Linked DNA regions of Homo sapiens: region 2 is reported to be linked to region 1. Evidence: microRNA targets listed by miRTarBase, many of them from high-throughput screens and not tested one by one. Region 1 holds a microRNA gene; the other region holds the end of a gene's coding sequence.
The links. Region 1 holds the annotated microRNA hsa-miR-1248 (ACCUUCUUGUAUAAGCACUGUGCUAAA, at 1,588-1,614, opposite strand). A microRNA usually pairs through its seed, bases 2 to 8, with sites in the 3' UTR of a target mRNA and lowers its output. Matches are read on the target gene's strand: a 7mer-m8 pairs with bases 2 to 8, a 7mer-A1 pairs with bases 2 to 7 and ends in A, and an 8mer does both.

Region 2: the mRNA of MOSMO is a reported target of hsa-miR-1248. Seed matches in the 3' UTR shown: 7mer-A1 at 4,660-4,666 and 7mer-A1 at 4,500-4,506.

What each region holds. Positions count from the first base shown.
Region 1 is chr3:186,783,052-186,788,288 of GRCh38, reverse strand. It overlaps MIR1248 (microRNA 1248), which reads right to left and starts at 1,617; the gene lies at 1,512-1,617. It overlaps EIF4A2 (eukaryotic translation initiation factor 4A2), which reads right to left and starts at 4,712. Exons shown (of 11, transcript NM_001967.4): 1 at 4,650-4,712; 2 at 3,812-3,857; 3 at 3,593-3,725; 4 at 3,188-3,327; 5 at 2,238-2,406; 6 at 2,016-2,125; 7 at 1,644-1,787; 8 at 1,025-1,162; 9 at 705-794; 10 at 407-486. The coding sequence starts at 4,678. SNORD2 (small nucleolar RNA, C/D box 2) reads right to left here and starts at 3,493; the gene lies at 3,424-3,493. It overlaps SNORA63B (small nucleolar RNA, H/ACA box 63B), which reads right to left and starts at 1,966; the gene lies at 1,842-1,966. It also overlaps SNORA81, SNORA63 and SNORA4. RefSeq lists an enhancer at 3,807-4,036.
Region 2 is chr16:22,080,444-22,085,680 of GRCh38, reverse strand. It overlaps MOSMO (modulator of smoothened), which reads right to left. Exons shown (of 3, transcript NM_001164579.2): 3 at 1,027-4,985. The coding sequence ends at 4,801. Among named protein-coding and RNA genes, the nearest start is that of VWA3A, 9.5 kb to the left of the region's middle.

The DNA of each region.
Region 1 (5,237 bases):
TTTTTACATCATATAACAAAGTACAATTCAATTTATTTAGGGATAAAGCCACTATAACTAAACCAGGGTTCACTCAAATTGCTACCAGGCGACACCAAGAAAATCCCAACTATAGAAAAAATCACCAAGAAAAACACATGGACACAAGAACATCACTAAAAGCTCAAGCATAAGGTAAGACCAACAATTGTGGAAAAAAACCCTATGTCCACAATCTGGGCAATGTTTACAAGTTTTCCCACTTTGTTCTCATCAACCTTCCCTAGTACAAATTTAATTACATCATCTTACTGAACACTACTGACTTTACTGAATCTATTCCTTGATTTGATGTTACCTTTCATACAAATCACAGTAGAAAAACGTATGAATTTTTTTCAATACAGCCAAGATGCTGGCTTCTCACCTGTGAATATAGTTTTCACGATTGGTAGGTAGATCATAATTTATAACCAAAGACACTTGTTGCACATCAATCCCGCGAGCCTGAAACACAATGGCATGTTTTAAAAATTGATTCAAAAAAACTTGACACCTGTCATGTAGGCCACAAAATAGTAGCGAACTATACTAAGTGGTATAGCCCACTGTGGAGTGTGGTCTTTTACTCTTCCAAATAGCCCAAGTTGGCAAAGGTTACTTAAAAACCTGCCCCCCAAAAAGCTAACTTTTGGTAGATTTTTAAAAAGCATTAAGAGACTTACCAACAAGTCAGTAGTGATCAGAACACGACTTGACCCTGACCGGAATTCCCTCATGATAACATCTCTCTCCTTCTGGTCCATGTCACCATGCTGCAAATTAATAAACCTTAATTCAAGAATCACCAGTCAGGTCGGTATTTAATTTTAATCAACATGTATGAGACCAAGCGTCCCTGGCTGCTACAGGAGAATAGCAGACAGGTATAGTTAAGAAACAACTTTATTTTAAGCAGGGGGAACGACAACACAGCACTTAGCAGCTATATTGTAGTCTGAATCCTGCTTTAGTGGAAATCCAGACATTTTAGAACACCTCTTACCAGAGCAGAAACTGTGAAGTCTCTGGCATGCATCTTCTCAGTCAGCCAGTCCACCTTGCGCCTCGTATTGAGAAAAATAACAGCCTGTGTAATGGTCAGTGTCTCGTACAAGTCACAAAGTGTATCCAACTTCCATTCCTGTAATGTTTAGAAGTTAAAGTTAACAGTCATTTAGTTTTTCCAACTCTTCAGTTAAAAATTCATTCTGGGCCAGCCACAGTGCTAATGCCTGTAATCCCAGCCCTTTGGGATCCTAGCACTTAGAGCCCAGAGTTCCAACCAGACCAGGGTTTCAAGAAAGTGAAACTGTCTCTACCCAAAATACCAAAATTGGCCAGTCTTAGCCAGTCTCATAACCCAGTCTCAAAACGTAGAAATTATAAAAATTAACTTCATTCTGTTAGGTCTAATGAGATATTGCACCAAATCTTAAGACAAAGGACATTGGACATTAAGAAAGAGGTCCACCCCAGTCTTTACAATCTAGTGCTGTTACTTTTCTTCTTGTGTGTACTCTGCTAGCATTATTGCAAAAACCAAGACATGGTCCTAGTGTCTGCAATTTTAGCACAGTGCTTATACAAGAAGGTAAAATAATGTCTAACAATCAGACAGTTACCTCTCTCTCAACATTAATATAAAACTGTTTGATTCCTTCAAGGGTCAATTCTTCCTTTTTCACCAGAATTCGAATTGGATCTCTCATGAATTTTTTGGTCACTTCCAACACATCAGTTGGCATTGTGGCAGAAAGCAACACAACCTTAAAAAGAGAAAATTATGTTGTAGCACAACTTACACATTAATACCCAAAGGAAAATGTCTGAAGCCAAGCGTCTCTGTCTTACTACGGAATGAAGGTAGACAGAGTTATGCATCAAGTGCTTTAAGCAGGGGGAACGACAACAAAACACATCAGTTGTATTGTAACAGTACCTGCATTAAATAAACCCCATCTCTACCTTTAAGAGGGGGGTGAAGTAATGCTTACCTGAATACTTGTGTTTAGTTTTTGGAAAATCTCATAGATTTGATCCTTAAAACCACGGCTCAACATTTCATCTGCTTCATCCAAAACAAACATTTTGATCCATTTTGGAGCTGTTAGAAACAAAGTCATACTGTCATTTCTAGATCTACTCAGTGATACAATTTGACTTTTCAACTATGTTAACAGTTTTAAAAAAAATACTCTCTTAAAGACAATACTTACAAAGGTATCTTCTGTTTAACATATCAAACACTCTCCCGGGTGTACCAACAACAATATGTGGTGCTTCAGCCTGCAGTTTTTGCATTTCATTTCGAACATTTGTTCCACCAATGCAGGCATGACAAGTGGCTCCCATATAGTCTCCAAGTGCCAGAATTACCTTTTGGATCTAAAACCCAAGCCTTAATTATTATTCCGCAGAACTCCAGGATCAATGACTAATTTTTAAAGCATAAAGGCAAATATAATCTGGTCTGCCAACAGCTTTTATGCATGCACAGCACAAAACTACTTCCAAGCTTAAAATGCAGACGACCTAACTGCTGCAAGGTAAAATTCCCTTAATGTCTTTCTTATGCCTTGTCAAACTTGGGATGCTGCTGCTCCACGCATCAGCTAGACAATCCAAGAATAACGTTTCCTACATTATTCTTCACTGTAGGTAGGGAGTACGTAGTGAAATTTATGTTCTGTAATTACAGCTAGGGCAAATGATTTTTTTCCCCCAGAGGGTATTGTGCCTTATATAATCCTGACCTCAATAAAGCCTACAGCTTTATTAGGAAGGTTTACTTCAAAGCCAATATAGCAGTGAGCTTTGAAAACATAGCATGCAACAGATGCATCACGAACTACGGAGACAGTCAAATGGTAACATGTCACTGCAGTTTTCATGTTGCACAACTGCATTCAAACTTAAAAAATGGGGACAGATCTAGTACATCCAAGAGAGCGCTTCGGATTCTCAATCTATTAGTATACAACCCTACAAACCATACCTGCATACCCAGTTCTTTTAAAACTTTCAACAAAAACTCCCTGCATGCATGGACAATTAAAAGGAGGGATCTGGTAGGACCAATTTATACTAAGTTTTAAATTCTTCACAGTTGTGAAACCTGAAACCTATGCAACACGCAAGCAGTTTTTTTGAACTACACTATCAATACCTGTTGAGCCAGTTCTCTGGTGGGGGCCAATACTAGTGCTTGGGTCTCCTTGAACTCAATCTCCAACTGTTGCAGGATGGAAATAGCAAATGTGGCTGTCTTGCCAGTACCTGACTGAGCTTGAGCAATCACATCATACCCTAAAAAAAGTAGGATACACATTTACCGATCCCACATCAAATTGTCACTTCTACTTCACACCATGTATTCCATTTGGAACATTATGCCCAAATAATCAAGTGATCAGCAATGAGTATTCTCTTCATTTCAGGTCAGTCCCGAAAGATGATTGCCATCATTTCACTTTAAGGAATACAAACAGGTGCTAGTCCCCCAGAGGTTACTTTCCCTTTTATGGTTCATGTCTATGTAGAACAATTTCCTAAAAATGCCAGTTTCTTTTACCTTTAATACAGGGAATAATAGCTCTCTGCTGAATAGCGGAAGGCTTCTCAAAACCGTAAGCATAGATGCCACGAAGGAGAGACTCCTTTAAATTCATATCATCAAAGTTATCAACAATCTCATTCCAGTTGCTCTGTAAGTTAGAAAAAATAATGCACGCATAAATGAGATGAACACACTCACCTTTCCAAAGCTTCAAGATCCACAACCGTTTCTTACCTCGATGACACCATCGGGGTCCATTCCCTCTGGGCCGCCATGTTCTCTGCTGACAAGAATACTGCAGTCAGACACCCCTTCCAGGCCACCTCAACTGCACCTTAAGCGCATAGCCCTTTGCAACCCGTCTCAGCACGTTAGCCTCCCCTGCACAAGCTAAAGCAGCAGCCTCAGGGCGAATATCCACACTGTGCGCCTTCCCTAAAGGTTGGGGCCTGCGGATGCCCGGAAAGGCAGCCCCCCAGGCCCGAGCGCATGGCGATCCCGTTTCAACTGCGGAGCGTCTCGCGAGAGCTCGGAGCGCCGAACTCCGCCCCCAACAATGCGCAAGCCGGGTGATTGACGCGGGCGGAGCGGCCTGGCGAGGGCGATGCCAACGGTTCACCGGCACCGGTCCTGTCCCGTCGCCTCCGCGCCGTGGCCGAGTGGAGACCGCTGCCTCCAACCCTTCCCCAAGTAAAGCCTAGGACCCTCCCCCAACTCGTGTGGATGACCGAAAATAAAGCTTCGGGTCCTGGTTACAGTGTACCGAACTCGGACTGCGCCACGGCTTTTTACTCCATGTTTCCCGTGCTCTACACTGGGAAGGAAAGCAGCCGAAGTTTCGTAATGTCTTAGAGAGGAAAAACGCCCTTTAGCCACTGCTTTCGCACCACCGTCCTATCTCCCCACAATCCGGGCCCTACCCATCATGGAAGCTTCTGGAAGGGCACAGGAGTGCTGTACCCTAAGAAAACGTCCATTAATTTAGAGTTTTTGCCTCCGTGCCATCCACTATCATCTCCCCTGGCGCCCTATGACCTTCACTACAGACCGCGACCGCCAACAGACTGCATACCTGTTATAATCCGCGGAGCCACCAGACATGATCCGAAAAACCACTCAGCGCCCGACTGAAAAGACAGCGGCGCCCAACCACCCGTTTTTTATAGGCTCGTGGCCGGAACCCGTTTCTTGCGGAGGAATTTTCTCGCCGTGCTTCGGTCAGCTACAAAATTGTGATCCTGGGGTCGTTACCTCGGATAAAATCCTAAGCAAGTTGGTAGAAAAACCCAAATGTGGTAATTTCTCGATATTACAGGGTCGCTGGAAATCCTAGGGCCCGGGGTTGGGTTGGGACTCTTTACCTCGCGGCGGAAGAATATAGCTGCGGAGTTAGTTAAACCTCGCTTTCCCCGCCCGCCCTGCTCCTACGGGGTTTCCGCGTCCCTGACGCAGAGGCGGGCCGGGGGAGCCGCGCCGGAGCCGGAGGCGGAAACCGGAGATGCTGTTCGTCGGGCGGCCGGGGCTTCCCGCGGGTGACAGGTCCCGGCTCGCGGCTCGCTGCCGGCACTCAGGTGCGGGAGGGGAACTCGGTTATTCCGCTTGCTCCCACCGCTGTTTAATTCCACAATGAAGACCTGCCTGGCATTTAGCCCGACCGTTA
Region 2 (5,237 bases), not on the chromosome of region 1:
TAGTCTTGGTGTTTTTCCTATAATCTTCTCATAGTGGCTAGAATAGAGATGATAGAAGAATAAGTCAAAATAAAGTATTTTTGAACCCATGTTGTTTTCAAAGCCACTGTGTTACCTTTTCCTAAGGTATTACCAAATAGAAAAAGTGTCCCCTCCACCATAGCAGCTCAGCATAAATCTACCATTACAATTTCCAATTGACCTATTCATTAATGTTTATAGAAAATAACCCCCCAAAAACCTCTAATCTGTGTTACAAATCAGGAGAAGATTTAGATGATGTGAAGATAGGGTAGGGTGACCAACTTATCCTAGTTTGCCTGGAACTTTCCCAGACATAGTACTTCAAGTCTCACCTCCAAGGAAACCCCTTAATCTTAGAACCCAAGAACATCTAAATCTTACCATGTCTTAATCCTCCAATTCCCCAGGAGGCTCCTCAAAAGGCCACACAAGGAAGAATCAGCAGCAAACTGTAAATATTTTATTATTATTATTCGGTTGGGCTAATCTTGACACCCCCAGAGAGAGCTATAGTTAAGCTGTGACAGGGCCTAAAGGCCTCTGTATTTGCTCCTCCAGCCCATACTTTAAGATTTTAAAAGCTAAGATCTTTTGGCCTGGAGTAAAGTAGAAACAGAAGACTGAAGCAAAGATGGACTTGGGTCTATGTGCAAGGAAGAAAGAATAGAAAGATAGTTGGCTTGAGGGCTTTGGCTTGGTTTCTCTCTCCTAGCTCATGGAAGCATGACGCAGAAGGGAAAGCCACATGTATGTGGTCTTTTATTGCTGAGTGACTCTTGGGTAATCATGGCCTAATCCACGTCCTGGAATATTAATGGCATCTCTTCTCTAGCGGTGAGCAAAGAGTGGGAGTGGAAGAAGATAGGGAAAGACCGCCCTCACCCCCCAATGCCAACAACAAAAAACCAACCCAAGAGGCATGGAAGTGGCACTTGTGAATATGTGAAACCTCCATAAGAAATCAATTTTTTAAATGAAGCTTATTTCAAAGTAATAGAAGCCTTTTTAGTTTCTTTAGTAGACAATTTATTTTGATAAACTTGCTCAATAACAAAAATACAAGTGAGGAAAATTATGTTCATTTTATACAGTTGTATTAACAATTTGTTTTGAAACTATTAATTGAAAAATGTTATAACCAATTAGAAAACAATTCTTAATAAAGTTTGGGATAATATACAGACCTTGATCACAAACTTCAAAATCTCTTGAGGTGATACAACTAAAAGTCCTGTGTAGGGAATCCTACCTACACGGGCCACTTTTTTCCTTCATGTTTTTATCCTTCAAAAATTTTCTGAAAGACAGCTTACTGTTTTGAATTGTGAATGTAAATTTAATTTTTTAAAGATGAAGTGGGTTGATAAAACAGTTACTATAATCAGAGTAACTTGTGGCTAGTAGTCTTTTAATAAAGACAAAATAAATGCAACATGTTCTTCCCATGAAGCCCATGATGCAAAATAATAGCTAACAGCATATGCAAAGTTAGTTTCCAATACTGTATTTTTCAGGGCCTTTCCTCTAAATCAACAGATTGTTTGTCACCAGGACTATTTATTATTTCACTTAATAGATTAAACAGTGAATTCACAGAACATCAAGTGGGGATATCAAAGCTTTAGGCAAAAGGGTAAAAACCAATAGTGTTTTGGTCATCTAGAACATTAAAAAGAAAAAAGAGCCATCCTTCAAAAACAAAACAAATGAAACAGAAAATAGGTTTATAAGAGGTGGAAGAGTCAGAAAAATTACATACACACATTAACAACATAGAACATGGATTACCTTTGGAAAGAATCATACTGAAATGTTTGCTTTTAATAAATTGAAGATTTTTCATGTTTACAGATGTTTGGGTATGTTCAATAGGAGCTTCCAAAAATGTCAAACTAATTCAGTCTTGTGCAAATAAAACCTAAAAATAGTTTTCAGCAGATTTTACAGTGATATTCTTAGGTATGAGAAGAATGCACACACTCTAAAAACAATGAAACAGACAAAAGTTTGACAAATGATTGCACCATAAAACAGTGTTTTATATACAGTTTACAAGATACGATTTCCTGCTATAAATTAATACTGTACTATATAGTACTTATTATAGTGACCTTTTTTAAAAGCAACTGCGGACAGTTGTCTATCTTTTCACTTATAGGATTTATAGAAATCTATATGAATGAATCCATTTCAATGTCTGGTCTGCAAGAGTACGAAGACTTGACTTCACATACTACTTGATGGGATGGTTTAATCCTGGGTTAGAGTGCTGACTGGCTAGAGGGAGTTTTCCCCCATCAGCCCTGTATGCACTGGACCTCCAAGACAACAATGAAATTAAAGACAATTTAATGGTTTGGGTAATAGATACAAATAAAACCTTAAATTTTGTAATCTTAAATGCAATACCACCATAAGTGAAAGAAGTAAACAGTGGGGAAATTCTTAGCAGCTGAGAAACTTTCTCTCCCCATGCTCATGATCCAGTTAAAAATATTTTGAGAAACTATTTACAATACAATTCATCTTTTGGAAGAGAAAAGCTCTTGGTCATGTCATAAGTTAATTTGAACCATACTTTGCTAACACTTTATCTCAGTGGTATATAACGGTGACAACCAAAGCTTTCCTTCAAAGTGATCCATTTGACTGAGGACCAATCAAATCAGAATAGCAACTGCAATCCCAAATGTCCATAGAACATGTCCAGTGGTATTCTTAGACTTGACTAGACATCATCATACTTGGGGAGAAACAGTCTCCCTCAGGATCTCCCAAAGGTTTCTTTTACTCTGGGAAGGAAAAGTATGACATTCTCCCAGAACACTTAAGAAATGCACCACAGTGGTGGTCCATCTCTCTCCCCAATTCCTGAGTGAGCTCAAACACTGGGGTTTTCTTTCACAATAAAATACTGCTGAATTAACAGTAAGATAGAAGACTGTCAAACAAGCCAGTGTGAAACACATCAAGCACCTCCATTTCATAGTGTGAATATCTGAGGAGGTAGCTCCCATCTTTGAAGTAATCATTCTAGAACTGATAATCTAGCCTTAAAAACAGTGCGTTCATTTCTGCTTGTGTGAAGCATGGGCCACATGGGACTCTACTGACAGGGAGTCATTTGGGTCATCAGTTCACTATAAATGACAGGGACATTTGGGTCACCAGTTCACTATAAAGAGGAGAAACTTAGCTCCACTGCCATGAAACACCCTGTCCCACATTTCAAACAGGAGATTATCTATAGTGTTCACCAGGAAAAACAAGCATTGATGCGAAGGCATGGAGATGTGGAGAAGAGAAATACTGTATTTTAAAACTGTGAGTTCAAGGGTTAGCTGCAATGCTTCTTTTAGGGAAGAACTTAAAGCTGTGGGTTTAGTACAGCCCTTTAAAGTAAATGCAAAAATATTAGCTTTTAGCAAACAAAGGCATATAACATATAAAGAAAATATTGTATTGCTCAGGTTTTGGTAAAGATGTATTAATAATGCTTACAGATAAAAATAATGAAATTAGTGTTGTAAATAGCCAAAATAGCCAGATATTTACTAGCGAACTTTGTATTTATGTAAAGTGTGCCTGAACATATAAAATGCATTATTAATGTAACAGACTGAGCCAGTAGAAAAAGAATCTCTGTACAACAGACAACAGTTGCCAATAATTTAAATAGTGTCAGATTCCCCAAATTATAAGGTTTGACATGATCTTACCTTCTACTATCATATACAAATAAATTAACCCTACAAATAATTTTTAGCTTAACTTAAAATCGCACCTAGAAAGGTATGGGATTATCTGTACCTATTACAAAAACCTGTTAAAATCAAGGGCTGCTACAAAGAATGAGGTAAACTGAAGACTCTCTCCACTATGCAGCCTTCAGATAAATGGCTTTTTTTTCTATTGGGTTCTAGGTTTGCACACCACAGTGTTTTGCTAGCAAAGCATTCAGAATTCTCTTCCAGGAACTGTTTGCATGTGTGTGTATATAAATTTACACACACATACACACACACACACACACACATATATACACACTGTATACTGCATCAGCAAAATATATATATTATATATATTTATATAAATATAAGGAAGATTTCCCCCACCCACCCACCCAAAACATGTGTCTTAGTGTTTGATTTTTTTTTTTTTTTGTACACAGAGAGAGGGAATTTCAGAATTTTTACATACATTTTAGCAAACAAGTTTTGATCTATTGGCTTCTTGGTGCAGTAATGCAACGGCAATCCATTCTGGTGCCAAAGGCTCATACTATTACAAGGAAGTTGTGAACACTAATTTCTTAGGAGGTGAGGCCAGCCCCACATGAACTTCTCTTGCATCCCTCTGGTCCACCATGACACATAAATACTTAGACTTTTTTTTTTCCTCTAATGAATCATTAGACATTAAAAACGGAATAACAGAGTCACAAAGGGCCACATGCTTTTCGGTATAAAGCATTCTCCTTCTCTAGGTTGCTATCACAGTGCAGACCTGACTGCCTGAATATGCTCAGGAGATTTAGTCAATATTGTCTGTATTTGGTTATGGAAAAGGCTCTCCTTTTTTTTTTTTTTTTTAAATCCAAAGTGCATAGTGAGAACAAACCAAAGCATTTTTTTTTCCTTCTCAGCATCAGTTTCATCTGAGCATCTTCCCATGAGAGGCCTGCTCAGATGCCTCGCCTTTGTCCTCTCCACCCTCCAAAAATAAAAAAATAAAATAAAATAAAAAATAATAAGAGTCAAGCAATTTAGACATTCATCAGCCTGGTAAACAAACTTTGCCAGCAAATAGAAGTCCTACTATTGTAAAGAAAATTGATAAGACAAAAAGTACATATGATGACCCAACTACTGTGTTGTTGGGTAATTTATAAGGTTGACCTCCGACTTCATTGATGTAAAATCCTATTGGAAATATTAGGGCAGCCATACAGAAAAGGATCACTGTAAAACAAACCAAAACACAACATTAGTAACATGGTTTGGTGATTTCAAAAAACAATGAAAATTTGGCACAAAGGAAGCTTGTAAGAAGGGCTGGCCAAACCTGTTAAAACATGGACCACTTGTTAAAAATGTGTATATATTTCAGGTCACATAGTATCCCTGAAGCCTAACAATACAGTAAAAGCTAGGTTAGGCTTTTATGTAAGTTTTAGGACAATTCTGAATATCAGGATTAAGAAAGTCCTTTTC